Regions from separate parts of the Homo sapiens genome. Here regions 2, 3, 4, 5, 6 and 7 are each linked to region 1. Evidence: fine-mapped expression QTL. A gene starts in region 1. Each other region holds a variant in brackets. All regions are shown on one strand. Distances are from middle to middle.

Region 1 (4,519 bases):
CCCTCTTGAAATTCCTTATGTCTGTAGTTGTAGTGTGAAAGGAGACACAACCAAACAGGCCATGTCTGTGTGCCACTAAAACTTTCTTTACAAAAACATGTGATGAGGCAGATTTGACCTCTGGGTAGCGGTGTGCTCACCCCTGGTCTAGAAAATTTCTTGGCACATAGTATTTGACAAATAAATACTTTTAATTGAAGCAGTCTCTTCTCATCAACTGTTGCCTCCCAATCAATTCTCTCTCTCTCTTATTTTTTTTTAGATAGAGTCTTAGTGATCCTACTGCCTCAGCCTCCCAAAATGCTGCCATTATAGGTGTCAGCCACCAAGCCCGGCCTCTGAAGCTTTCAGTCTTAGGATAAAGATCAACTCCTGATTAAGGCCAACACACCTGCACAGTCTGGCCCCCACTCCATTGTGGCTTTACAGTCACTGCCAAGGACTAGAGGGACCACTCAGTGACTCGGATCAGAGAGGGGGTGCTTAAAGCCAACAGATGGTGCAGGCTCACTCACCCTCCCAAGCTTCCCAGGAGCGTTTCCTCGTACGCTGGAGGCACGGAGCTCTCCCCACCCTTTCTGGACTTCCTGACATATGCCAGCTCCTTCCCACCTTTGCACAAGTTGATTGCGACTGCGGTCACCAAACCATTGTTCCTGGCCCAGCCGTTGCCTGCAGTGGGCACCTGGGGCCTTTGCACATGCTGTTTCTCCTGCCTAAAACTCCACTCTCTCTCCCTTGCTCATCCTTCAGCTCAGTCACCTCCTCTAGGAGGTCTTCCCTGATCCCCTCGGCCAGGCGCCATTAAAGCACTCTTCTTCCTAGCACTGATTCTGGCTGTAATTTTACCTGCTTATGTGTTTCATTGATGAATGTCTGGTTCCCCTACTAGAGAAGCTTCATGGGGCACAAAGACCAAGCCTGTTTTGTTCTCCATCCTATTCCTAGAAACTATTTCAGTTAGCTAGCACATAGCAGTGACTGTGAATGAATGAATGAATAATGAATGAGCGAATGGTAAGGAACTGGAGCTTTGGAACCAGATAGATTCTGGGTTCAATACCCGACTCCACCACAGGGGCAAGTCCCCAACCTCCTAAAGCCTGTTTCTCACTGTAAAACTGGGATAATGGCAGGGCCCACCAGAAAGACTTTATTGAAGATAGAATGAGTTGAGGCCCAGAAAGTCTCAGCCCAGAGCCTGGCTCCAGGCAGGTACTGTCAATGTACTGACTGGAACAGTGACAGCTCGGAAATCCTGTCATGTGAGAAATAGTTTTAAAAAATCAGAATGCTTAGCCCCGGGGAAGTAAAGATCAAAGGTAGGGGATAAACCTCTTCCATTACCTGCATATGGACCCTTTCTTGATCCAGCTGTCTCAGAAAGCCATAAAGTCTCTGTCCCTATAGGTGTGCAAAAAGGAGCCGGGAGACCATGACTCGGGCACTGCAGACGGAGCTCCCGCAGGGGTGAGGGCGCCTAAGTGACCTCACGGGTCTCCTCCAACCCGGGGTCCTCCATTTCTAAGCACTTGGAGGCCTCTTGAGCTCTAGTGAGGGAGGAGGCGCAGATGGGAGCGCACGAGTCGGGTGGGCAAAGGCAGCTGGTTGGAGAGAAGCGTAGGCCAAGAGGCCCCAAGGACTAGAGGGACTGCTCAGCGACTCTGGGAGCAGAGAGGGGGCGCTTAAAGCCAACAGATGGCGCGGGCTCACCTAGGCCGAGCGCCCGCTCGCCCGCCCGGGCTTCCCGGGAGCGTTACCTCGCTCTGCCTGAGGCGCGGGGCGGACGAGACGCTGGGGGCCCCATCCCCCTGCGCGCCCCTCTGCGGGACGGCTGGCGGCCTGGCGGGGCACTGCTCTGTCTCGCACCTGGGGCCTCTTCCGCGGGCTTCCTCCCTGCCCCTTTGGGGGATTCGTAGAGTTGCCACAGCAGCCGGTGCCATGACATCGGCAGAGGGCAGCTTCGCCAGCACTGAAATATTCATGCCCTGAGCGCCCGGCGGGGCTCGGCGCCGCTCCCGGGGGTCCGGGCGGGGCCGGGCGGGAGCTCGGGGGTCCTGGCGGCCTGAGGGGTGGGGGAGCGCCGAGCGCGGGCGGGCGGGCGGGGGCCGGGCGAGGCGGGAGGTGAGGGAGGGAGCTGCGGGAGGCGGGGTCTGGACGGCGGGGGCCGAGCGGGGCGGGGGCCGAGCGGGGCGGGGGAAGCAAGGGAAAGTTGATCGCGGACTTGAGCGGCGGCGGCGGCTCGGGAGAGAGGGACGCGGGCTGCAGGCGCGATGCTTGGCTAGAGGACGCGTCCGACGGCGGCCGGACGCTGAGGTGGTCGGGGCTAGTCAGCCCGGCCTGGGCATGGAGCGCGGGGTGGCAGAGCCTCTGGACGTTTGGGGCGCGCCCAGTCCGAGCCCCCGGCGCGCCTGAAGTTGCGAGCGGCGAGCGGCGAGCGGCGAGCGGCCCGCGGAGACCCAGGAGCTGCCGGCACGCCGCGGATGAGCCTTCGCGCCGGCGGGAAGACGCGGCGGTGGCCAGGGCCAGAGCAGGCGGCCCGCGGGGGCCGATCCGGCGGAGAGCAGAGCCCGAGGCGAGGCGAGGCGCGGCGCCGCTGCACACACGCACACGGTACCCGGAGCCACGCACCGCCTCTTCCCTCCTCGCTTCCCTCTCCTTCCCCTCGCCGTTCGCCCGCCGCGCGGCGGGGAAGTTGGTGGTGACCGCGGCTGCCGAACCACTTGTTCCCAGCGCGGCCATCGCCCGTGGCGGGCGCTCGCGGCATCCTTCGGTCCCAGGCCCCTGGCCCTAGCCTCGCGCCCCGCTCCGAGCTCCCCGACGCGCGGCAACTTTGATTCCTGGGAACTCGAATTCCATTCGCGTTGGCCTTGGGAGGACAGGCATCCCATCCCCCATCCCCGGTCCTGGGACCGCGAACATTTGGGGGCTTTGCTCTCGGCGCTACGGAGAGGGTCCAGGTCTGGGGTGGAGAGATTTTCGAGAGTGGAGCGCGTTGGGATCCAATCCCCTCCCCTTCTGAGCCCTGGGTCCCCATTTGGACAGTGGGGATGGGGTGGGGCGCACCCCTACTGCGGGCTGGGCAGAGGCGCTGAGGGGAACTAAAGGCACGTAGTTCTCCCCTCCCCTCATCAAGTCCCTGTGCCCGCGGGAGACCCCAGGGGACTTACACATCCTCCCAAATTCGGTCCAGCTATGGGAAGACGCGCCCCTCGAGGAGCCGGGAGCCTTTTGCGGCTCTCGCTTCGCCTTCCTGGCCCTGGAACTGGTCCGCTACGAGCGGTGCTGGCTGCCCCCAGGAGCTGGCACCCGGGAGCACTGCCCCTCATCTCCACCGTAGGTCAGCCCAGGACTCGAGCAGAGCCCGCGTGTTCCAAGGCAGTGACGGCGCCAGCCGGCGGGGACTCTGCCTGGCTTTCTCGGAGCGGGCACCTAGAGAGGCTGCCTCCGTGCTGTGAGCGGAGATCCGATGCCAGCCGCCGCCCCACTGCGACCCCAGCCCCAGCCCTAGTGCTGTCAGCGGTCCACTGGGAGGAAATTAGCCTTTCCTCGGTAGTAATACTCCCCCATCCTCCCTAGTAATTCAGAAAGCAGAGCCTTCTTTTTCTACGTCCTTTGCCCTCTCAGACCAGAGCTGGCATTGACATTGACCTCGCCTTCCAGCCCCTTGGGAAGTGCCCCAACCCTAATTTGGATTTTGAAATAAGCTAGAGAGACACAGGAGTGTGTGTGTGTGTGTGTGTGTGTGTGTGTGTGTGTGTGTGTGTGTGTTGGGTGGAGTCAGACCCTCACACAGGGAAGAATTAGGTTGTGGGGTGTGGGGTGGGGCGGGCTTTAAGAACCTAGTTGGGGCCAGTTGCATGGTGATGATGAGTCAGCCCACGATGGGGAGAGCTGGCTTGGAGTTAGTGCTTGGTTCGTGGTGCAGGGGTAGGCGCACTGCGGTCAGCACCTACAGGGGTGGGGGCACTAGATGTTACTCTGCCAAGGAGGAGCTGGGAAGGGGCCCCTTGCCTGGGGGAATAGCAAGGCTTGGTTCTGGCTGCCAGGGCTGGGGAGGGCAGGAAGGCAGAGTGTCTCGTGGTAGAGGGTGGGTGTCCCCCGTGAGTTGGGAAGGTGGCACACAGAAGCCACTGGTGTGAACCAGGAAGCTCTGCCTCGAGTGCTGGAGGACAGCAGTGAGGGGTGGGAGGCCCAGAGCTAGCATCCTGGCCCCGTCTGTGCTGGGTCCGCATATACTTCTCAGACTTGGCCTTCCTCACCTCTAAACAGCTGGGCTCCTCACGTCTGCTTACCAAAGGGCTTGATTTGAGGGTTGTGATAGCAGATGGTCCTGGTTGCCTCTGGAATAGCTCCCCCACTCAACAAGCTACCTTACCTGCAGTTTCACCATTTGAGGTTCATTTATTTGAGCCAAGTATTTTAAAGGGCACCTTCCTGAAGTGCTCATTTAAAATGCACATTCTTCTGGGAGGTGAAGGTGTAGCGGAACCTTGCTCCTCAGAGTGTGGCCTGTGGA
Region 2 (4,000 bases), 380 kb after region 1:
CAGAGCGAAACTACAAACCTCTCTCTGATGTTTCTGAGACCCTAGCACAAAGCTGGGCGTGGAGAAGGTTTTACTGCACTTTTATCTGAATGGACAAACCAATGAGTGAGTGAGTGATTGTGTGATGGAGGAGCAGAGGTGATCGTGGCCAGGACCAGGGATCACAGGAGTGGAAGAGCACAGCCATTTTACTCAGTTTACCCCAGTCTAGCTGAAGCTTCCAGGGGTTTTTCTGGCACTTTAGGGATCTTGGGTTAATAGGTGACTCCTAGGCTGAGAGGCAGAGGACACTCAGAGTCTGACTGGGTCAGGAACCAGGGTATCAGGACTCAATGGGAGCCAGGAGTCCTGGGGGCCTTGTGGGTGGCCTGATCCAAGTCACGGGCTCTCTGGAGGCCCTTAGCCCTTGCTCTAAGGGCAGGGAAGGCTACAACAGAGGAAGGCTGAGGCATCATGTTATTACTAAGTGAACTTGTGCAGGCCCAGTCCCCCTGGAGCCAGTGAACTCCCCAGGATGGGAGCCCCAGAGGCTGGCAGGACATAACCCAGGTCCTTGGGCATGCTCCTGGCCTTGTGACCCCACCTTGGAAGGCAGCCCAGGGCCCTTCCTGCTGGCATAGCATGAGCTCCCTTCCACCAGGGGAGGTACAAAGCCAACTGAGATCAGGTGGACACCGGGCCCTTCTCACCCTGACATCCTCTGGCAAGTGAGGGGGGTCCCTTAAGGGCAAGATCCTAGAGCACCACCCCATCTCAACCCTTCCTGGACTGGCTTTGCTCAGGACACCCTTGAAACCAGACTCCCTCTTCCCCAGGGCCTAGCAGCCGGGGAGGGCCTGGAATTAGAGAAAGGGGAGCAATTGCCCTGCCAACCCCTTCCCCAGGGGGATAGAGCCTCTGAGCTGGGCCCAGTTCCCTCCCCCCTTTTCACTTCCTTTCTCCCTACCACACTGCCCACCACTGAGCCTCCTGGGGTTGCATCAGGGTGAGACACAGGCATTGCCCAAGGACCATGGTCCAGAAACCTCAAGCACTGTTTCCTCAACACCAGGGCAGGACAGGAAGGGCTCAGCTGAGAGGGCCTTTGGAGCACTGACTTTCTCCTCCCTCCGAGACCAGAGGAAGTCAAACCCACCTTCCCTCCCCAAGCCCAGACCTGGTCTCAGAGCAGGAGGGGCTCCAAGGCCCAACTCTGTTCAAACTCTCCACTCCCAGCCCCTGCAGCCTGCACACTCCATCATGTGTTTGTGCTTGTTTTCATTAAAAATAGTGGTGAAGGCCCCAAATATTCGAATAAAGATGACTGTCAAGGAAAGCCACCATGTCCATCTTGTGGCTCTGCAGGGCCTGGAGGCAGCTGTGAGTACTCTCTACTGGTGAGGGGCCCAGCCTTGAGCCTTCCTGAGTCCCCTTACTTGCCGGCAAGAATACAAGAGCACCACATTGCAGGAAAGGGGCTGAATTCCAGCCTCCCTGTTGGGGAGGGGATGCTGACATTTCCCACATTCCCAAACTCACCTCCCAAACTCCCTGAGCTAGAAACAACTTTAGAAATCAAGCCAGGTCCTTTATTAAACAGACAGAAAAGGTCCAGAGAGGGGATGTGACCTGCCCAAGGCCACGCAGCTCCTTTTCAAGGCTGCCAACCCTATCTGCTTTGGAAACCGTTTCAGCAAACACCCAATGCCCTCCACCCCCAAGATCCAGAGCTGCATATCAGAGGAATCATTGCCTCCTCAGGGGCAGTGACAGCCTTCTTGGGTCCAGATCCCCTGCCCATCTGTCCATTCTTCCAGTGGTAGCTCCAGAGCCAGCCAGTCCCAAGGAAAAAACCATATGCAAATTGCCTACATTGAGTTGTCTGTACCACCTGCTTTCTGTTCTCTGGCCTGGCAATGGCCTAGTCAC[G/A]TTCTCTCTACCCAGACACCTTTGCAGTGATTAACACCTTATTATTTTATATTAGTCACTCATTATGATTTGTATTAGTTAGGGTCCTGGCAGGAAACAGATGGCACACTCAGAAAGGGTTCAACTGAAGAGAGTTTAATACAGGGACTGTTTAGGAAGGCTGGTAAAGCACCCAGAGACTAGCACCAACCACAGGAAGCCACTACCACTCACATGTCCAAAGGGAAAGAAGAGGAAGTGATGTTCTGGAGCCCAGTGAAAGCTGGTGCTATGAAAGGGGGACCCCTGTCCCCAAGCAGGAGAAACACAGCCATGGGCAGAACCGCAGTGAGGAATGGAGGGAGTGTGGAAGAAACACCCCCGCCTCTTTCTCCCCACTGCTTTCATCTTCAGCCAGGGCCTCCCATTGGCCACACCCAGCAGGAAGCTGGATAGCAAGGGAGCCAGGGTAAGGCAGTTAGTCCACAGGGGACATCTTCCCAGGTGGAGAAAGGCAGGAAGCAGGAGCAAGAACCATTTCTAGTTGATTCTTGAGTGCTGATTGCCGAGTTCTGATTAGCTGAATATTACTTGTGGTCCAATTGACTCAAGCATTGGCAGAGATGGCCGATCACAGGAGAGTATGTTGTAGAAGCTGTTCTTGGAATGAAGTTATGTTCTGTGAGTCTTATTTTTCACAGGTCAACAAGTTCTGCCCACGAAATTGCCACAAACCCAATGTCCTCCTTCTGGAAATGCTGAAAATATGTATTTCTTTCATTTACATGAACAATAGATGAAGGTTAAATATGGCATTGGGCCGAGTGCCTCACATTCTTGCCTCTTGTAGTCTGGCAGGACATATAGGCTCAATAAGACACAGGCCCTCGTAAAGCTCTGAGCTGGGGTGACTACCAGGGTTCATCCCATATGCCAGTCTTAATCACTAGACCACTGTGCTAACAAGGATCCCAAGTTTGCATCTGGCCTCAGCAGTTCTGTGATTGATTAGTGATGTCTGCTGGGGGTCGCAGACATAGGAGTGGTGGTGCCAGTGCCATCTTGGACAGAGCAGTTACCTTACTTGGCTTTTGGTGGAGTTTTTGAGCTTTCTCTCTCTACCAGCCTGTGACCCACCCCCTGCTTTCTTCTCCTTGCCCTTTCTGTTTGAGTCACATGGAGTGAGTTCAGCCCAGGAGAACAGCCATCTGGATCCACCTTGGTCCCTCTGGCCACCTGACCAAGGACGTGACCCACTCTTTTCCACAGGCCACCACGCACGTGTACGTGACCATTGTGGATGAGAATGATAACGCGCCCATGTTCCAGCAGCCCCACTATGAGGTGCTGCTGGATGAGGGCCCAGACACGCTCAACACCAGCCTCATCACCATCCAGGCACTGGACCTGGATGAGGGTCCCAACGGCACAGTCACCTATGCCATCGTCGCAGGCAACATCGTCAACACCTTCCGCATCGACAGACACATGGTCAGCAGCTGATGGCAGGATCAAGACAAGGGGCGAAACCTATCCAGGGATTGGCAAGGAGTTCAGTGACACTGGAGGGGGATGGAGCAAAGATGCAGTCTAGGGGAAACTGTGGGGGCACTCAGTGTGGGAGGATGAAAAGTTTGGTGGAGTGGAGCCTGGGCTAGGGGGTGGCAGTGGTTCCCCATCACAGCTCCAATGTCAGGGCCTACTTCCCAAATTGGTCAGAGGGTGCTGCAGACCTACCACCCCTAGATCCATCCTTGTCCCTTCCCTGTGTCCCCCAGGGTGTCATCACTGCTGCCAAAGAGCTGGACTACGAGATCAGCCACGGCCGCTACACCCTGATCGTCACTGCCACAGACCAGTGCCCCATCTTATCCCACCGCCTCACCTCTACCACCACGGTGGGTGCATGGGACACAGCCCCAACTTGGGCTTGGAGGTTGGCGAAGGATGGGACCCAGAAAGCTCCGATGCGGGAAGGGGTTAGGGGAAGATTGTCTGAGGGAAATGCCTAAATCCAAGACCCCTGTCCTAATCTCAGCAACTCACTCAAACTTGCTGTGTGACTTTAACGAGGTCACTGAACTTCCCTGTGTGGCTACATCTGTCAGACAAG
Region 3 (4,000 bases), 340 kb after region 1:
GACCTTGGCTGGTTGTTCCATGTTTCTGAGCCTCCTCTCTGTGAACTGAGAACAGTTGCTTTCTGTCAAGGTTGCCGTAAGAACCAAGTAGAGTCCAGGTAATGCCGCAGCGTGTGCCCACCCCAGCAGCGTGAGCACAATCCCCTCTACCCTGGGAAGACGTCAGTGCCATGGGACTCAAGCCCCACTCTTCCAGGCCAGGATACTGATATCTCCTAGCCCCGGAACTTTCCATGGGTGCTACACTACCTCCATGGGCCTGCACCCCCATTTTGAGGGAGATGAATCACTTCTGCTTAAAACACTGCACTCCCAAAAGCCCTTGCTCAACAGAGGGCCCACGTGGGCAGAGGAGGACCAGGGAGTCCCCCTTGGCTTGACCTGGCCACCTCTCCTCCACACCTGCTCACCCCTCACCCTCTCTTCTCCCCACAGGTGGTCTTCTCCCTGGCCTCTGGCAACATCGCGGGGGCCTTTGAGATCGTCACCACCAATGACTCCATTGGCGAAGTGTTTGTGGCCAGGCCCCTGGACAGAGAAGAGCTGGATCACTACATCCTCCAGGTGGGGCCTGGCCTCCCTTGGACTGAGAGACCACTGGCTAAGTGCCTAGACCGGTCACTACTCTCCATCCAGGAGAGAGCCTGTCCATCAGCACACTCTGGTGGTCAGTGCCCCTGCTGTCACCAAGTAACATGGGGCCAGCTGCACCCATCGGGGCCAAGAGCACAGTGAGGCTGACCCAGGATAGGGAAACCTGGGAGGGACCTTAGATACCCAGGAGGAGGTAGTTGAGGTGTCTTCCCCTGCTGTAAGAGCCAGGAGGATGAGGGAGAGCCTGGTGGAGCTGGGAGAGCCCCAGCTCTTCTACAAATACAGTGTGGCCTTGGACAGGTTATTAACTCTGGGCCTCATTTTCCCCACCTATGCAATGTACAAAAAAATCCCCGTCTGGCCTGCCCTGTGGAGGGAAGAAGCAAGTGCAGGCTTGAGGAGCCACGAAGGCTATCATTATTGCAGAATGGCCATGGCTGGGATGTTTGCCAAGGGCTTTCTGGGAACCTCAGGACTGCGCTTCTGCAGAGGGCTCAGCTCCTGCAGCACTTATGACTGCATCAAGGCTCCCAGGAACAGGCTCAGCCATAGGGCGCCAGCTCATTGCTTATAATATTACTTGAGGCTCTTTTCCCGTTTGCCAGAGATCATGGGACAGAGTGCGTGGGACAGAGGCCTTTGAAGCTAAAGACAGGAGCCTTGGGTCAGGTTGCAGGCCCAGGGTCATGGTCAAAGGCTGGCACAGCCCAGAATACAGTCAGAGGTAGGTCAGGAGGTCAAGGCTTGGGTACATGTTAATCAGATTCCAAACGAGGATCCCAAGTCAGACGACGATTGGGCAAGAATCATTTGCAGCATGGGGCAGAAGGTGAAGGCTTTGGGGAGAGCCCAGGGCTGGCCGGGAGAGCCCAGGGCTGGCCAGGCCACCCAGGGGTTCTCAGTGAGTCTCTTTGCCCTCCCAAATGCTCCCCACTGATTGCACAGCCCTTTTGGACTCCATATTCCCAATCCTGCCCGCCACGCTTTAGCCCTGACTCCAGTTGCCCTCCTCCTTGCAGGTTGTGGCTTCTGACCGAGGCACCCCTCCACGGAAGAAGGACCACATCCTGCAGGTGACCATCCTGGACATCAATGACAACCCTCCAGTCATCGAGAGCCCCTTTGGATACAATGTCAGTGTGAATGAGGTGAGGGCAGCCCCGGGGCCCATATAGCTGGACATACGGGGGGACCGTGGGCACGAGCCAACCATGCAGCCCCTGTTTAAATGTCTGCCTGGCCCACTGGTCCCTCAGATCTCATGGATGGGAACTGTGGCTCATTCGTAGTGATAGCCCTAACGCCTAGCCTGGATCCTAGAATGCAGTATCTTTTTGGAGTAGAGGAGAAGAGAAAAGAGAAAAAGAAGAAAGTTGCCTTTCACCAGACAGGAAACTGAGGTTTACCCCGGGAGCTTGCTTTTTTAAAAAATGTATTTATTATTCAGCCCTAAGACTGAGCCACTCCAATCTGCCCTGGCATTGCTGGGTATCATGCTAGGTTGGACGTTCATGAAGGCAGGATGACATGTGGCCAGAGTCTAGCTCTCAGGCCAGACTCCCTCACTTCAGCCCACTGATTGGCTGTGTGGACTTGCACACATTCCTTCCCTGCACCTCAGTTTTCTCTTCTGTAAATGAGGATG[A/T]TGATGCCAGTACCTAACTCACAGAGTTGGAGAGAGGACCCAGTGAGTTAATGCAGGCCCCAGCATATCAGAGGTGCTCACAGAATGTTCGCTGCTATCATCCTTATTATCTCCATCATTGCTCTGGGGTAGATGCAGCAAAGCTTTTGGGAGGTACAGGGGGAGCCTTCGGGCTACAGGAGCAGGTGCCAGACTGTGCCCCAATGCCTTGAGTCCAGAATGACTGCTCTCCTGCTCTCCTCCCAGAACGTGGGTGGAGGTACTGCTGTGGTCCAGGTGAGAGCCACTGACCGTGACATCGGGATCAACAGTGTTCTGTCCTACTACATCACCGAGGGCAACAAGGACATGGCCTTCCGCATGGACCGCATCAGCGGTGAGATCGCCACACGGCCTGCCCCGCCTGACCGCGAGCGCCAGAGCTTCTACCACCTGGTGGCCACTGTGGAGGACGAGGGCACCCCAACCCTGTCGGTGAGCGATGGGGGTGGCCACAGGGAGGAGCGGGTGGGCCAGGGCAGCTCCGCCTCCGAGTGAGGGGAACAAGATGGGTGAGAATGGAATTCCACACAGCAGGCGAATCCTTGACAACTCCTTTAGTCCATCTGCCTTTAGTCCATCTGCCCAAGATGGCCTCCCCTTACGGAGGCCTGTTGCGTGCAAAGCTGGGGTGCTAGTTTGGCCTCCCGAGTCTATAGCTACTCAGAAGCTCTGTTTAGTCCTCTTTTCTCTCACAGAGCAGCTCTATGGGGTGGTACAGGTTGAGCCTCTGTATTGGGGCCTGGCCCAGGGAGCAAGTGGGTATGAATCTAGCCCCCGCTTCACTTGCCCACCTATGCACTGTGAGGTCACACCAATGTGCATGGTGGTGTCTTACAGAAAGGGTGCCTCTCTGGCCCTCTTCCCCTACATTGTGTGGTGTGGCATGCTGTCACAACACGTCAGGGTGGGAAGGGATTCGTGTCTGTGGTTCACACTAACGCTCGAATGAACAGCACCACTGCCCAAGGCAATGTTCAAAGTTTGCCAGGTGAGGGAAGGACTTGTGGTCCTCAAGGGCTGGATGGAGATCTCTAGGAGCTGATGAGCTGTGTTGGGAGTGGCTTATAAACTGAAAGCAGGGAATTTGGAGTCAGGAGCACTGTGGCTGGCTGCATGATCTTGAGCAAGTCAGAACCTCTCAGCATATCGCTTTTGTCATCTGCAAAAGGGAGATAATATCTACCTCATAGGTGTTGTTTGGGGAATCAAATTAGCTCATGTCTGTGGAAGCACTTGGTAAACCATGAGGAGGAAGAGGACTGTTATTAGTTCTCTATTGCCACAATAATGCTGCCTTACAAACCAAACAAAACAGAGGAGTAAAACAATAACCACATAGTTAGCGCTAATTCTGCAGGCTGGCAATCTGGACATGGCTTAGCCGGGTGGTTCTTCTGGTCTCAGCTGGGCTTCTGCATTTGTATGTGGGCAGCTGCCTGTCAGCAGGGTGCTATGCTTCTGAGGGTTGGCTCGCCAGCAGCTGGGGTGACAGGGACAACTCATCCTCCAGAAGGCTAGCCCGTGCCTGTTCTTATGGGGCTGGAAAGTGTCCAGAAGAGACAGCAGAGGCGTGCAAGGCCTCTTGAGTCCCTGGCTTGGAACTGGCACAAGGTCACTTCTACCACAATCTGTTGGCCAAAGCAAGTCACAAGGCCAGCCCAGACTCAAGCTATGGGAAAATAAACTCTACCTTCTGAAGGAATGAGCTACAAAGTCACA
Region 4 (4,000 bases), 390 kb after region 1:
TTCTCACTTAGCCTCTTGAGGTGTCTGTAGATGGCCAACAACACCATGGGGTCCTCCGAGGGCCATCTCTCAGAAGCAGCAAGGCCTGGGCATGAGTGGGTCACTCTCGCCCCGGCGAGACCCTGCCGACCCACATTTTTGGCCTTCTAGATCATCTCTTAGGCAATTTAGGGAGGCCAAGCAGAGCAGTTGGCATCTGTGGGCCAAAGTAGAAAGCAGGGAAAAGGTCTCCATGCAGCTCACCACCCTCCACATCCCAGACAGGGATCGTCACTGTGAACCGGCCCCTGGACCGCGAGCGGATCCCAGAGTACAAGCTGACCATTTCTGTGAAGGACAACCCGGAGAATCCACGCATAGCCAGGAGGGTGAGACTGGAGGGCACTGGTGGGAGTGGGCTGGGAGCTAGAGGCGCATGGAGAGAGAACACATCACCCCTCCTGCAGGCAGCATAGCCAGGCTTAGATGCACAGGCTTTGGAGTGAGCACGTGCTGGCTTCAAATCCCAGTTCTCTCCTTCAGTAGGTGCGTGGCTTTGGCTAGTTAACTCCTCTTGGCCTCCATTTCTCTTCTGCAAAATGAAGATCTCACCTACCCCAAAGTTGTAGAAAGGATGAAGGAGCCAATATATGTGAAAGCCTCAGCACAGTGCCTGGAGTGTGACAAACACTCAGTGAACATCAACTATCATTGTTTCCTCCCCAAACCACTGATACCTGGACACACACTGCATTTGTGCATGGGGCACATGGGCCTGCATTCACCCACAAGCATGCTCTGAGGTCCTGGAAGGGCTGCGTTTTCCAGGTGGCTCTCCCCTCAGAAGCCAAAGAAATGAGCTCTTGACTAAAGGGAGGTGGATGTTGCAAAGCAAACAGTCCCTTTGGGTTGGGGGTCAGCTCTGTCCTTCCAGCCCATGAATCTGTGGTAGATTCCTAGCCAGAAGCCTTCAGGCCCAGTTCATCTCAGCTCTGCCCCTGACTAGCTGTGTGGCTCAGCCAAGGCACCACTCTTTCTGGGCCTCAGTTTCCCTATCGGTCTAGCCAGAGGAGACGTCAGGCTGGAGAAACTCATAAGCTACATGCCCCTCCCATGTGGTGCTCCTCTGCTTCCTACTCTTTTTTTTTTTTTTTTTTTTTGAGACAGAGTCTCACTCTGTCACCCAAGCTGGTGTGCAGTGGTGCAATCGTGATCTCAGCTCACTGCAACCTCCACCTCCCAGGTTCAAGCGATTCTTGTGCCTCAGTCTCCCGAGTAGCTAGGATTACATGCACACGCCACCTTGCCCGGCTAATTTTTGTATTTTTAGCAGAGATGGGATTTCACCATGTTGGCGAGGCTTGTCTCAAACTCCTGACCTCAAGCAATCCACCTGCCTCAGCCTCCCAAAGTGCTGGGATTACAGGTGTGAGCCACCATGCCCAGCTTCTACTCCCTCATTTTTGCCCCCACTTTTTCTCTTTTCTGCTCTCATTTTTCCTCTCCCTTGCCTGGCTTCAGGAGGGCCCCGGGTAAAAGCAGCATTGAGTGGCAGGACTCGGTGGGCTTAGGGGCTAAGCCCCACTCTGCTGCTAACTCACCACTTGGCTCTGAATGGGCACTCCCCATCTCTGCACCTTGGTTCCCTTGTCTCTGAGGTGGTGACAGTGCACAGGGGTACTGGAGGTTCTGAGGTTTGCGAGTGTGAAGTGAGGCACTGGCAGAGTTTGAATGAACTCCAGCCAGGGCAACAGGAAGGCCTTGAAGGTCGAGAAACAGGACTCATCTTCCCGCCTGAAGTGAGATGGAACAGGATTCAATCCCATTTGCCACAC[C/T]TCCGTGAAGGAGTTAAATCCCTATTTGCCAGACTAGAAAACTGAGACCCAGACAGGGGAAATGAGGCACCCAAGATCACCCAGAATAGGGTCTTCAACCCAGGTCTTTGAACCCTGGTGTGGGCGCTTTTCAGATTTTTTTTTTTTTTTTTTTTTTAGATTCAGGGAGTACAAGCACAGGTTTCTTAACATGTCCATATTGTGTAGTGGTGAAGACTGGGCTTTTAGTGTACCCATCAGGTGTACCCAAAACTACCTATTATGTCCAATGTTCACTGAACTGTGAACTCACTGCCACTCACTGAACAGTGAACATTGTACCTAATAAATAATTTTTCAACCCTCACCCTCTTCCCATCCTCCCACCCTTCTGAGTCTCCAATGACTCTTATTCCATTCTGTATATCCATGGTTACACATTATTTAGCTCCCACTTATAAGTGAAAATATGCAATATTTGACTTTCTATTTCTGAGTCATTTCACTTAGGATAATGGCCTTCAGTTCCATCCATGTTGCTGCAAAAGACACGACTTCACTCTTTCTTACGGTTGAGTAGTATTCCATGGTCTATATACCACATTTTCTTTAGTCAGTCCTCTGTGGATGGACACTTACATTGATTCCATATCTTTGCTATTGTGAATAGTGTGGCGATAAACATGTGAGTGTAAGTATCTTTTTGATATAACGATGTATTTCCCTTTGGGCAGGTACCCAGTAGAGGGGTATTGTGGGATTGAAGGGTAATTCTGTCTTTAGTTCTTTGAGAAATCTCCATATTGCTTGCCACAGTGGCTGAAGGAATTTACATTCCCACCAGCAGTGTATGAGCATTCCCTTTTCTCTGCATCCTCACCAGTGTCTGTTGTTTTTTTCTTGAGATGGTGTCTTGCTCTCTTGCCCAGGCTGGAGTACAGTGGCACAATCTCGGCTCACTGCAATCTCTGCCTCCTGGGTTCAAGCGATTCTCCTGTCTCAACTTCCCAAGTAGCTGGGATTACAGGTGTAAGCCATCATGCCCAGCTAATTTTTTTGTATTTTAAGTAGAGACAGGGTTTCACCATATTGGCCAGGCTGGTCTCGAACTCCTGACCTTAAGTGATCCGCCCACCTCAGACTCCCAAAGTGCTGGGATTACAGGCGTGAGCCACCATGCCCAGCATGTTGTTTTTTGACTTTTTAATAATAGCCGTTCTGACTGGTGTGAGAGGGTACCTCACTGTGGCTTATTGCATTTCTCTGATGATTAGCAACACTAAGCATTTTTTCTTTTTTTCTTTTTTTTTGAGATGGAGTCTTGCTCTGTCATCTGGGCTGGAGTGCAGTGGCGTGATATCCGCTCGCTGCAAGCTCCGCCTCCTGGGTTCATGCCATTCTCCTGCCTCAGCCTCCCAAGTAGCTGGGACTACAGGTGCGTGCCACCACGCCCAGCTAATTTTTTGTGCTTTTAGTAGAGACGGGGTTTCACCATGTTAGCCAGGATGGTCTCGATCTCCTGACCTCGTGATCTGCCCGTCTTGGCCTCCCAAAGTGCTGGGATTACAGGCATGAGCCACTGCACCCGGCCACATTTTTTCATGTTTGTTGCCCTCTTGTATGTCTTCTTTTGAAAAATGTGAGTTCATGTTGGTGTGGGCTTTTCTGATCATCCACCTCTGTGCCCCAATCCCCAACCTCCCAACCCTCCTCCCACCTAGGTGGGGGCACTTTGCTGAGCATGGCCTACAACGTGCCCCATTCTGCCCCTTGCAGGATTATGACTTGCTTCTGATCTTCCTTTCTGATGAGAATGACAACCACCCCCTCTTCACTAAAAGCACCTACCAGGCAGAGGTGATGGAAAACTCTCCCGCTGGTAGGTGCTGGGCCCACCCGGGAGCTCCTGCTGTTGCCAGGCACCACTGGGGCCTGGGATGCCTGAGGACCTCCCTTATGCCTAACGGCATAGCTGAACCTAGACCCCAGTGGGTGCGGGAGGGGAAGGATGGGTGCAGCTCCGGGAGATGGTGGGCTGGGGCTCCCGGGCCTCCTATGAGCACAAAGAAGCCACAGGTCTGGTTGGAAGAGACAGTCGTGGTCATTGTTCCCCAGGGTGGTCTGAGAGCTGCCCCACCATCCCTCAAGAAGGGCATGTAAGGTGTGAGGACTACCCCGGAGGGGAGTGGGTCCACCCCTCACTGCTC
Region 5 (4,000 bases), 430 kb after region 1:
ATCCAGCCAGAGGACAGGGAGCTGGACAGCACCCTGGGCCCAGGTCAAGGCTACCTCCCTCTCCCCCTCCCACAACGGGGCAGATTCCAGTTTCCATGTTAAAGGGCTCGTGTCTGAAGCAGTGCATATGTGCCAGTTACATCTCGGGGAGGAGACCACACAAAGCTCCTAAGGAACATCAAACAGAGTCTCCATCCAGGGCCACCACGAGGGAGACTCCCCAGCACCTTCCACATCTCCAAGGACACCTGGTCTGTTCTAGAATGTGTCTTTTCAGGTCACTCTAGGTAGGAACTAAGCTATGCTTTTTTCTAGAGGGGGAACTACCATGCCCATAAACTAACAGAAAGCCAAATGTGTTAGAAATAAAACCACACCAGATTTTTCAGCGGCAGGACCATTTAAAATGATGCATTAAGGGGAAATGCTGGCTTTTTAAAAAACCACATTCTATGTTCAAGCTGCACACAGTGCACATGAAAACCCAACCCGCCAAATGGATGAATCATTTTAAGCCACAAGGTCTCCAGATTGATCCCCTTTCACCATTTAGACACCAAACACAGAGCACTAGATAGTCTAGACATCCTGACCATGACACTCTGATGGCCAAGAGTGAGACAAGTGTATAGACTCTGTATATTGTGGAAATAAATGCAACCAGCAACTAGCTCTGAGCCTGAGTGCATTTGCCTTCCAGCACCAAACCCTAAAGCAGCAGGAACAAAAGTGCTAAAAACAGGACCTGTTAAGGGAAAAGAGCTAGACCATGACTATGGCTCATCTTGTTTTAATATCAAGAAGGTTCGAGAATTAATAAGACCGGGGGAGTCTGAAAAGTATATCCCAAATACCCTGTCTCTGCCACACCTTAAGAATGAAAAATAAATAAATAAATAAATAAATAATAAGAACGCAGCTGAAGATACAGCAAGCTTTTTAGAAAAAAAAAAAAGACGCCAATATTCAGGAGGTATAGGGCTGCTTCTGCCTCGATCAGCTTTGTTCCAACTCCTTGAGGAGGCCTAGGTAAAAATTCAGGTATTTCAACCAAAGTCCTCTCCCATTAGACTTCAAAATACCTTCAAAAAAAGCTCCAATGCTAATCCTAGCAGATGGATGCCAACGCTCAGAGGTGGCAGTGTTCAGGACGGCCCCGAAGGACACTGGCTCAGAGCAAGTATGGACTGGGCATTTGGTTCTTGTAGCATGCCATCTGATGTGGCTCTAGATCCCAAAGGACCCTGTTACCCAGAGGGGCAGAAGCCACAATCAAGAGATTGTTTCCAATTCTCTGGATCCAACAGCCAGGAACAGTCTGCTGGCTGTCTGCAAATGTTTGCTCATGCAGCAGAAGCATTTCTGTGTTTATGAAAAACAGCACTAAAGACATGCAATGCCTACTTGCGTTGTGACAGACACAAGGTGCCCTGGGGAAGCCAGACCTACACTGGACTTCCTAACTGGCCTACGTTGAAGGAGGCTGAGGCACCTCCTGGGCCACCCATGGTTCCCCATTGTCACACTGGTGGCCTGCATGTACGTATGCTGTATGTGGACTGTGACCAGAGCACAAGGCTCTGCTGGCTTCATTTTACTGGACCCCGAAGGGGAGATGAGACCCCCAAAACCTCAAGGGCTGAATTACAGGGGAGAGATGCAGAAGCCCTCCCCAGCCTATTAACAGAGAGGGAGCCTGCCTCTCGTAACCATTCCTTGTATCTGTCAGAGCTAATCATGCCATACCCAAAAAAAAAAAAAGCAAAGTAACTAGAGGAAGCAGCAGACCACTACTGCAAGCAGATTCCCCGACACATACCTGATCCTGCTGTTGAACAAAAAAACAGGAAATCGGAGGTGAAAATAAGAGAAAGGAAAGGACACAACAGTTAAGAAAAATTAAAACAACAATCAAGCAGTTAACCAGGTGTAAGGATGTCCCAAGAGGTTCAGGGGAAATGCTCTTGCAATCAGATCTTAGCAACCTACCTTGTTCCTGCTATCTTGCGGACAAGGGGGCCCTGAAAGCTTTCCTGGCCCTGCAGGGATAGACCATTTGGGGGCTGTCCTGCTCTGTGTGCACCATCTCCAGGTCTTACACACTAAATCACACTCAAAACAC[TG/T]TGTAGCAAGAGCCCCAGAAAATGCTTGATGAAGGGTCTCCATACTCAGGAGCCCACACTGGCCCCGGGCCCACAAGGCTTTCCCACAGGTTAGTGACCAGCAGCACCACAGAACAAGACACAGGGCTGCCCAAGTAAGGGGGGTAAGGGATCCCTGAGGGGTAAGGGATCCTAGGGCAATCTACTGCAGGTGGCCAAATGGCAGCCTGGAAGGCCAATTTAACAATGTATCCAAAGCCTCATGCTTCCATTCAGCAGTTCCAGCTTTAGTTCTCTATAATAAGGGGAAAGGCAGGGATATGCATATATGTATGCATTTGGCTATAAGGATATTCATCTTCCCAAAGGCAAACCTGAAAACAACCTAGATACATCCGGCCACCGGGGACCAATTATGTAAATTCTCTTCTATGTACACAGGTGATTATTCTGCAAGCATTTAGTCATTTGTACAAGAATATTCAATGGCCAACATATTTTTAGGCAAAAAATGCAAACTACAAAGTACAAGGTAGTATATATGAACCCGTTGATATATTCTGAAACTCCAAATGATTTTTGTGTGGGAAGTATTGTCCATATTTTCAACACATTTCTACACAGTATAACTTTTATAATGAGAAAAATATTTTAAGTTAGCTATGAGGAAGTACTTCACGAGATTAAATCCCGTCAATGCTTATCTTTACCTACTTCAGGTGCATGTCTCTGTAAGCTGCCTTTTAACTGTTTTTAGAACATGGTAGGGTGTGAGTAATAATCCCAAATAAACTACTCCTCCTCAGCTTGCTTGAGTGGTTACAGCAGGTCAGAGAGTCAATCTTTCAGGCTCCTTGGCCATAAGATCTGGCTGCAACTACTCAACTGTGCTGCTGTAGCACAAAACAGGCGTCGCTGTGTTCCAAAAAAATACCCTTTAAGTACAAAACATGATGGGCCAGTTTGCTGACCCCTGGATCAGAGAACAAACTCAAACGCTGGTATGTCAATCTCAAGTAGTCAGAAAGCATGACAGACAGGGAAAAGGTGCCCCCCACCCACTCAGCCCTGCCAATCAGATCTAAGGAGGCAGTGCCCGTTCCCAACGTGAGCAGGCCGCCCTGCTCTGCGTGGACTAGCGAGCTCATTTCCTGAATGGGTATTCTTGATTCTAATGAAGGAATGCCCCCTGCCACCTGAATGCATCCAAAGCCAGCTCAGGAGTTACCAGCTCAAGCAGCAGCTTCAGCGGACGCTGCTGCCATGCACGGGACAAACTCCGGGAGGCAGTATTCCCCCGACTCAGGTGGCAACACAGCCATTCTCAGGCCTGGCTTAGTTAGAGAGCACTTGACTTCTACAGATCCCAGGGTTAAAGCCAGACCTAGAAACCTGATGGCTGGCCTGAACGGGCAGAGGCAAACAAATTGCCAGGAAGCCACCAGGGCAGTCCTGGGATCAAGATGCTTCAGCCTGCCTCTCCCGTAACAGGGGAGGTACTGAGATTGCAAGTGGAGAGTCTCCTAGCCAGAGGGGTCGATTTAGCCCAATTCAGCACTCTAAGGTAAAAAAGGGAAACTAAACCATATAATTTTCAAAATTCCTAGAAATGACGAAACCTGAAAAACAAAGAAAAATGCTAACAAGGGGCCTCCGTGCCACCTACCATGTGCATCATCATCTGGATAGCAATTTCAGAATACTGGCTGATATAGTTCTTGCACTGAGGAGAGAGAAACAGATTGCTAAACAAATCACTGCAACAATGCACCAAAACCCAACCAACAAAAACCCCCCAGCATTTCCAACAGTGTCAACTGGTGACTATCAAGCAAGTTTCTAAAGTAGAATTTTATGAATGTCTGCTCTGGGCCAGCTTTAATAAGATGAAAATGACA
Region 6 (4,000 bases), 75 kb after region 1:
TGTGTACAGTTCAGTGGCATTAATTACATTCACAGTGTTGTGCAACCATCACCACTGCCTGTTTCCAGAACCAACTTACTTGTTCCAAACAGAAATTCTGTACCCATTAGATAATAACTTCTCATTCTCCCTTCCTCCTACCCCCTAGCAATGTCCACTATGGGACGTATTTGATTTTTAATTTTACTTTTTTTTTTTTGTCTTGCTCTATCACCCAGGCTGGAGTGCAGTAGCACCATCACGGCCCACTTCAGCCTCAGCATCCTAGGCTCTAGCAGTCCTTCCATATCAGCCTCCTGAGTAGCTGGGACTACAGGCATGTGCCACTACACCCAGCTAATTTTTTATGTTTTGTAGAGATGGGTGGGGTCTTGCTGTGTTGTCTGGGCTGGTCTAACTCCTGGGCTGAAGTGATCCTCCCGCCTTGGCCTCTCAAAGTGCTGGGATTACAGGCATGAGCCACTGTGCCTGGCCCTTATTTTTTATTTTAGCCATTCTAATACTTATGTGATAGTATCTCATTGTCATTTTATTTGCATTTTCCTAATGATTAATGATGTTGAGCATCTTTTCATGTACAAATTTATTTGCCATCCATATATCTACTTTGGTGAAGTGGCTATTCAAATCTTTGACCATGTTTAGAAAATGAGTTATTCATGTTCTGATAATTGAGTTTTGAGGGTTCCTTATATACAGATAAAGGACTCATATATCTGAGTCCTTTAGCAGATATATGATTTGCAAATATTTTCTCCCAGTCTGTGGCTTGTCTTTTCATTCTCTTGGCAGTGTCTTTTGAAGAGCAGAAGTTTAATTTTGCGGGTCTTTCAGCCAAGCTCATGCACTCGCCCACTCTTGACCGCAGTCCCTGGCTTACTGCACTGCCATCTGCGCGCAGCCCGGCTCTTGCTCCCACCACAACACTGACGTGGTACCCACTAAGGCCAGCCAGTGGCTCTCACTCTGCCGAGTTCAGCAAATGTGTTGCAGATGGTATATGCCTGGGACCTTTCCCTGGATTTGACCCTGCAGGTCACTCACGACCTGGAACTGTGTTCCTCAGGGACCCCTGCTTCTCTCCCACCACTGTGATTGTGCCTTCTCTGTCTCCGTCTCCCACTCAGCAGTGATGCTTCCCAGGCACGCACCCTCTGCCCCCTTTATGTGCTCTCTGTGGTGCGATTTCCCTCATATTTGCTTTATGACCACCCCCAAGCCAGTGATACCCAGTCTCCAGCCCAGCCACCTTCCTGGACTCCAGTTGCGTGGACCCAGCTGAGCCCTGGAAGCTGCACCAGGAGGGCCAGCGCCACCCCCATTGACGTGTCCCCGTGAGAACTTTTCCCCAAACCCTCCCTCTCTAACCATCCCACGCCGTGTTGTTTCTGACCCCAGGGCCTTGTTCCTGCCATTCCTGCGGCCTGGTACACCTGCCCTAGGTTTCCTTTCCTTTTTCTTTTCCTTCATGCATCTCAAGCCGTCTCTCTTCCCGGAAGCTTTGCTGGGATTCCATCCTTGGGATCTTTCCTCTGTACTCATGGCCTGTAATACAGCTTAGCATGTACACACATCCTACGTGGAAACCATCTGTTTATATGCTTATTTCCCCCAATAGGTGGTAATTGCTTTGAGAGTCAATGTGACTTCTAATTTGTATTTTTGTCCCCCACATCTACAGGTGTGCCTGGAATGGATCTGGTGCTCGACAGATGATAGGTGATTCAGTTTCAGGGCTGGACCTGGGCCAGTCCCGAGCTTGTTTGTCCTCAGCTCCATTCTTGGCCACCTCCAGCCCTGCTCCGAGTGGCGGGGAGCTGACCCCATGGGCTGCCTTCCTCAGGCTCCCAGATCAGCTGGCTTCTGCCTGGGTTTAGCCAACAGGAGGCCCTGGCAGGAGACTGGATGGTGGGAGGAA[G/C]GGAGGAGCCAGGGTGTTTCTTTCCTTCTCTCCTCGGGTGGTAGCTCCAAAGTTTGTGTCTCTTGGCTCCTGTTAACACCACCTCCTCCCTTGTCCCTCCCGCAAAGGGCTGGCAGTGTGGCTTTCTGCTGGGCCTCTGTCTGGGTCACCACACCGCCCTGTTTGGCCTCTTGGCTCCTCTATCACCCGTGTGACCGATTCCCCACGTTAAATCCCCTCTCTTCGCAGCTCTAACAGTGTCTCCTTCTTTCTGGTTGGACCCTCACTCAGCCCAGCTGCCAGGGACTGTCCCCTCTGCTTGTACAGTGCTGGCCCAGCATTCACTTGTCCAGGAAATGCCTGGGTGAATGGCAGGCACATGGGCCAGGCTTCAACTTGCTCTGCCCTCGCCCTTTGGCCTTGAAGGTCCTGCCAGATACTCCACAGCGAAGCGAGGCCTGAGCCCTTGTGCTGGGGTTGCCAAGGGAGGGGTCTGGAGGTGGCAGCAAGTGGTGGGAGGGCAGGTTGGCAGTGCCAAGGACTCCTGTGCTCTGTGCATGGCCCTTTATCTATTAAGCCTGCTGAGTGGTAGACTCCAGTGTGGTCCCAGGTGGTGGGAAAATAGCATCTTTAATTGTGCTCGGAATGAGATTAACTTCTTATCTGACAGTTTGACATCTTTATTGTTATTAATACCCGAATAATGCATTGTTATTTTTATAAACTCCATGGTGGCAAACATTTTTCCTTTATTTGGATTAAAAGTAGGTGTATCTGTTACTTCCCCTCATTACCCTGGGCTGGAACTCAGGGTCTCTGGCTGGGGAGCAGGGACTGGGGTGAAGGGAAGCCCATCTGCCGAGTCCTCTCCCAAGTGGCAGAGGAGCCAGGCCCCAGAGCTGGTCACTTGGCAATAGCACAGTCAAGGTCTGGGCAAAGCCTCCTGGCCTCCATTCCCGCCTGGGAAGGCAGGATGCTCCCGGAGTCTTCCCTACTGGAGAGGCGGTGTTCTGGAATACAGAGCCTGGAGACTTTGTCCTGGACTTACTCAGGGGCTGTAAATGGAAGTACAGGTTCTCCACAGCATCAAGTGGATGGAGAAGGAAGACATAAAAAGTCAATATAAATGCCATGGAGGAATACCAAGGGCCCTCTGTGCACCTGTGTGTTCATTCATAAGTATTTGCTGATCACCTACTGTGTGCCGGATATGATGTTACGTGCTGGTATACGATGGGGCTGGCATCCAGAGTGCCCCTTTTGGGGGTGAGGTTGAAGGGAAGGGCAGGATAATACCAAAGTCAGGATCATGGCTCTTGAGTCAGGCTGCCTGGGCCCAAATCCTGGTATCCAGAGGTCCCAGGGCAAGTTCCTCAACCTCTCTGAGCCTCAATTTTTCTCGTCTGTAAAATGGAGATAAAAAAGTACTTACTTCCAACATTCTTGGGATCATCAAATACATGTGAAAACATTTGCTACACTGCCTGGGGCACAGAAGAACCCAACAATATTATGGATGATGATTGTAGCTGCAGCTCTAGACGTGGGGCCAGGCCCTTGCAGTATGGCTACTAGAGGGTCAGGTGAGCAGTGGGCAGGGGTGCCCACAGCTGGCCCCTGTGAGCATCAAGCTCCCTCCCCAGGGACCTGTTGCCCACTCCCAGGCCCCCTGGCTCCTCCACTTACCCAGTCGTTAGCCCAGCTGACAAGGATGATAATGCCTCTGCCTTGGAGAGCTGGCGCCGACGTCTTTATCAAAGCCAATATTAATTTTCACTAATTAGGAGCTGCCGCTAATGAGCGTCACAGCTAATTTAGCTCATCTATAACCTAGGAATGGCACTGCTCTCATGCCAGGCTCCAGAGTCCAGGATGTTGGTGCCCGCTCCCTCCCCCACCTCCTCTCCACAATGCCAGAGGCACCAGCTGCCAGTACAGCCTGTTCCCACATGCCACCAGGGCCAGCTTGTTCTGCAGAGGGTCCAGTGGCCTTCACCTCCAGGGAGCCCTCAGGGTGGGGCCAAAGGGAAAATCCCTAAGGAAGGGGTCAGAGTATGTGCCAATCAGCTCCAGGAGTAAGTTTGAAACAGGAGGTTCAGTCTG
Region 7 (4,000 bases), 310 kb after region 1:
GACCTCGATGAGGGCCTGAACGGCCTGGTGTCCTACCGCATGCCGGTGGGCATGCCCCGCATGGACTTCCTCATCAACAGCAGCAGCGGCGTGGTGGTCACCACCACCGAGCTGGACCGCGAGCGCATCGCGGAGTACCAGCTGCGGGTGGTGGCCAGTGATGCAGGCACGCCCACCAAGAGCTCCACCAGCACGCTCACCATCCATGGTGAGGGGGCGCAGGGGCTTCTGCTGTGTGCTCAGTGTGTGGGCACAGGCCTGGGTCAGGGGCAGGGGTAGAGGGGAGCCCATGTCCCCCACTGCTGTCTATTGGACTTGTAGGCACAGGCTCCCTTGTTAATGAGGTGCCCTCCCCAGCTGGAGCCATTCAACACAGCAGAGCCTTCTCCACACCTGACCACTGCCTTCAGTGCCCCAGAGCTCAGGGGCAGTGGCCTGGACCTGCTGCCAAAGCCCCATCAACCCCACCCCTCCTAGCCTCTGATCGTGGCAACAGCAGAGAGGGCTTGAGCAGGGCCCGGGACCCTCAGGGTCATGAACAGGCAGGGAGGGTGCAGAGCCCTTTGTCTTCTTTGGAAGGCCAGAGTTTTTGTTTGGGAGACATAAAGGAGACCTCCCCCTCCCATGGGTGTGGAACCCCTGGACTGGCAGTAGCAGGGCATCACCCTGGGAAGAGAGCAGCTGGGACTCCCAGACTCCCTAAGATCCTCATCCCCCTGGGACTCTCATGCTCATTCCCAGTGTCTCTGCCCTCTATTGGTGAAGGGACGGGGTACTGTTTCCACTCTGGATGAGTCTTTAATTTTCAGGACAGGATGCAGACATGAGCTGTTGCCAAGGGGCCAGGAATAACCCCAGGGAAATAAGGGCAGAGTTTAGCAGGCAAGACATGGCCTGTTCCCTGAGCCTGTTCAATCCCATCCTAGCTCTGCTGGCCTCCATGGGATGGTAGGGGGCGGGGGAGGGTGTAGTTAGCTCAGCACAGGCTCAGACACTGACCCTCTTCAGTTGAGACCTAAGATGGTGAGGATTTCAGAGAGCACAACATTCTCTCTCCCATTGGTCCGAAGCTTGCCTGTGGGTTTCTGTTGCCAGTTTCAGGACCCCCTTATTGGCCGATGATGGACAGGGAATATGTCCCAGCTTTAAGAGAGGACCCCTGGAGGGCCTTTCTCCAAGACTCAGCAGAAGCCATAACATCAAATGGGCCCAGGATCTCTCCTGGTGATACCATTCAGAGGAACCCAAGTGGGGTGGGGATCACTTCGCTATGAAGGTTGTCCAAGCCCCATCTGCCTGAGGAATAGGGGCCTAGCATGCAGAGCGGAGTAAACACATCTGTAAGGGAAATTAAACCTTATTTCGGGGGGTGGGATTTTCAAAGTGAGCTCCCTTTGCTGAAAGTCCGTTGCATGCTGAGGGTAGACCTTGAGGCTCCAGCCCTCCACTGTGCCACTGTGTGACTTTGGACAAGTCACTCAGCTGCTCTGAGCTCCCGCTTCCTCAGCTCCACAGTGTGTCTAATAATGCCCACCTCCTAGGGTGCTCAGAGGGCTGCATGTGGTCCTGTATGGGAAGCACTCAGCATGGGCTTGGCACGCTGGACAAGCTCGTAAATGGTCACTGTCGTCATCGTTGTCATGATTGTCCGTGTTGCCATGGTCGTTGTTAGGTGCGTACTGGAGAGAGGTTCTAAGGTTTTCTCTCCTCCCTTTGACAGCTGAGCAGCAATAAGCCCCCAGGGCACAGGGACAGCGGGAGGGTCTGGAGCACTGGTGGGCCTGGTCCTGGCCCCGGTGGGCATGGGGGGCCCTGGGCTTATGGCCAGGAGGTGTTGACACAGATGCCACTTGGAGCCCGTGACTCCCTTGGGAATTCATTCCCTACTTGGTCTGGTGCTGGAGACGCTGCTCTGGAGCTGGGTCTTCTGCGGCAGAAGCCAGGCCTAGCCCCGGCGCCCGTTCTGCCCCGCAGTGCT[G/A]GATGTGAACGACGAGACGCCCACCTTCTTCCCGGCCGTGTACAATGTGTCTGTGTCCGAGGACGTGCCACGCGAGTTCCGGGTGGTCTGGCTGAACTGCACGGACAACGACGTGGGCCTCAATGCAGAGCTCAGCTACTTCATCACAGGTGCTGCCCCGGCCTCCGCCCACCTGTGCAGGCCTCCTGGGGCCCTGCCTCCACCCCTCCCAGATGGACAGCCAGACTAGGTGGGGGCAGGTGAGGGTGGAAAAGAGGTCAGGGCTCTACTGTTGGGCTTTAGCCTCTGGTGGTGCCTCCCGAGGATTTGCTCCTGGCTCTTCCCAAGGGCTTTGCAGCTGGATCACTCTGGACTGGCTCCCTGGGGACCTCCTGAACCTGTTGGTTGCAGGGACGGGGAGCATCTACCAAGGTTCATTCTAGAGGGAGGTAAGGCCCCATGATTCCTAGGGAGGAGCCCTGAGCCCCACTCCCCGCCCCAAGTCTGGGTGACAGAGCAGTGACTTGGAGGAATGTGGCCTCATCCTTCCTTGGGGACCTGTTGAGAATTCCCACCTGTTTAGAGGCAGATGGTTTTGATCTCCCTAAATGAAATGGTTTTAGCTCAAAAATGTTGCCTGGCTGTTGTCTGCAGAGCTGTGGCCACAGATGATGAGGCCATGTCCTGGCTCACAGGGGAAAGTGAGCTGCAATGGATTAGTGATGTCTGCCACAGTGGTAGGATTGGTAGATGGTGGCGCACATGCCATGGGTTTGCCATTCCTGGATGAGAACACAGCTTCTTAGCCTCCCCGACACACGAGAGATGCTGGGACACATGGGGGTGCAGTCTTCCCCATTCCTCAACCCTCTTTGGCCCTTTTACTGGCTCAGTCTTCTCTCTGTCCATGACCTGCCTACCAACACACATGTTGCCTCTGCATATGTGTGCCTGTACACACGAGCAGGGCACACACCAGCCTTCCCAATGCCTCCCCATGAAGCAAGGATGCCCAGCTCACAGCCCATCTGTGGCTTTGCTGCGGCCAACGTGACCTCCCAGCCCTCAGCCTTCCCTTTCTTCCCTCACCTCCCTGAAGGGGCCCAGCACCCTCAGGCCCACTCCTTACAGTCTGGCCCTCAAGTCGGCCCTAGGGAGGGCTTAGTTACTAAGACCCCTCACATGGCACCAGCTCCGTGGCTCCACTGCCCACACTATTTACGTCCTAGTTCTGCCCTGGGCTCCCCGGGAGTCAGAGTGTGTCCCTTGCAGATGGTACTTCAGACACTGGGGAGCACTGGAGGTTTGGGGGTCAGGAGGCTTTCCCTAGGGGCAAACCAGCAAGAACAGGGGGAGCACCTGGCAGCCTGCAGGATGACTCTTCAGCACCCCAGAGTGGTGGGCTCCCGCTGACCTGCCCAGAGCCCTCCCGGATTTTCAGTGCACATTCTGCAAGGAGCTGAGCCCAGTCCTGCCCAAGCTCACCACAAAGCTGGTGCCGTGGCGCCCTCTGCTGCCCAGAACACCACACTGCTCGCCAGCTGGCAGGGGAGGGGTCTCCACGCTGTTCTGGGAGTTCCTTCCTGACTCCCGTCCACCGCGAGAGGAGACCCTCACACTTCCCACCTGTCCCAGAACTCAAGGAGACTCAGTAATCCCTGTCTCCTGTACACCTGCCTTGACTCCTCCCTCTGTGGAGCCTCCATGTCCCCACTCAGGAAGCTTCGCTCCTCAGCCCATCTCACCTCCGAGATGAGGGGCCTGGGGGATGCTCAGCCAACCCCAGAGTTCTCAGCAACATATACAAGCCCCTATGCAGGTTAGCTGCTCAGACGCTTCTGCAGGACGGGCAGGGAGCAGAGGGGTGAAGGATAAGCCCAGGGACCCACGCATGGAGAAACCCAGAGTGGCACAGGCACATCACTGAGTGAGGGGTTCTCCTCTGTGAGGTGGAGGCTAAATGAAATGGTCTGCATGAAGTACCTGTAAACAGGAGGTGCTTCGTGAAGGTTAGGAACGGATTCCAGGCATCTGGCACCCCCG

Direction of the effects. Alleles are on the strand shown, and positions count from the first base shown. SD is a standard deviation of normalised expression in the study named. Not every link is listed here.
With allele G in place of C in region 6, the expression in tibial artery of the gene that starts at base 2,215 in region 1 is higher (moderate effect, 0.60 SD a copy in GTEx).

What was found.
Region 2: its variant is fine-mapped to the expression of CDH23 in whole blood (INTERVAL, PIP above 0.99).
Region 3: its variant is fine-mapped to the expression of CDH23 in whole blood (TOPMed, PIP above 0.99). The same link has a PIP of 0.9 or more in CD4 T cells.
Region 4: its variant is fine-mapped to the expression of CDH23 in whole blood (INTERVAL, PIP above 0.99).
Region 5: its variant is fine-mapped to the expression of CDH23 in whole blood (INTERVAL, PIP above 0.99).
Region 6: its variant is fine-mapped to the expression of CDH23 in tibial artery (GTEx, PIP above 0.99). The same link has a PIP of 0.9 or more in aorta.
Region 7: its variant is fine-mapped to the expression of CDH23 in whole blood (TOPMed, PIP 0.96).

Annotation. Positions count from the first base shown.
Region 1 is chr10:71,394,706-71,399,224 of GRCh38, forward strand. CDH23 (cadherin related 23) reads left to right here and starts at 2,215. Exons shown (of 70, transcript NM_022124.6): 1 at 2,215-2,613. RefSeq lists a silencer at 1,734-1,823 and an enhancer at 2,507-3,018.
Region 2 is chr10:71,774,524-71,778,523 of GRCh38, forward strand. It overlaps CDH23 (cadherin related 23), which reads left to right. Exons shown (of 70, transcript NM_022124.6): 39 at 3,157-3,378; 40 at 3,666-3,785. Among named protein-coding and RNA genes, the nearest start is that of VSIR, 3.0 kb to the left of the region's middle. RefSeq lists a silencer at 3,483-3,638. The variant G/A (reference allele first, on the strand shown) is at 1,909.
Region 3 is chr10:71,739,209-71,743,208 of GRCh38, forward strand. It overlaps CDH23 (cadherin related 23), which reads left to right. Exons shown (of 70, transcript NM_022124.6): 36 at 436-564; 37 at 1,614-1,742; 38 at 2,486-2,713. Among named protein-coding and RNA genes, the nearest start is that of C10orf105, 21 kb to the left of the region's middle. The variant A/T (reference allele first, on the strand shown) is at 2,240.
Region 4 is chr10:71,785,371-71,789,370 of GRCh38, forward strand. CDH23 (cadherin related 23) reads left to right here. Exons shown (of 70, transcript NM_022124.6): 44 at 261-368; 45 at 3,570-3,672. Among named protein-coding and RNA genes, the nearest start is that of MIR7152, 3.4 kb to the right of the region's middle. The variant C/T (reference allele first, on the strand shown) is at 1,815.
Region 5 is chr10:71,822,069-71,826,068 of GRCh38, forward strand. It overlaps PSAP (prosaposin), which reads right to left. Exons shown (of 14, transcript NM_002778.4): 7 at 3,769-3,825. Among named protein-coding and RNA genes, the nearest start is that of PSAP, 27 kb to the right of the region's middle. The variant TG/T (reference allele first, on the strand shown) is at 2,123.
Region 6 is chr10:71,470,317-71,474,316 of GRCh38, forward strand. The region is part of intron 3 of CDH23 (cadherin related 23); the gene reads left to right. It overlaps LOC105378356 (a long non-coding RNA gene), which reads right to left and starts at 3,738. Exons shown (of 3, transcript XR_946055.3): 1 at 3,584-3,738; 2 at 3,096-3,300; 3 at 2,562-2,973. The variant G/C (reference allele first, on the strand shown) is at 1,919.
Region 7 is chr10:71,704,923-71,708,922 of GRCh38, forward strand. CDH23 (cadherin related 23) reads left to right here. Exons shown (of 70, transcript NM_022124.6): 25 at 1-208; 26 at 1,975-2,127. Among named protein-coding and RNA genes, the nearest start is that of C10orf105, 13 kb to the right of the region's middle. The variant G/A (reference allele first, on the strand shown) is at 1,979.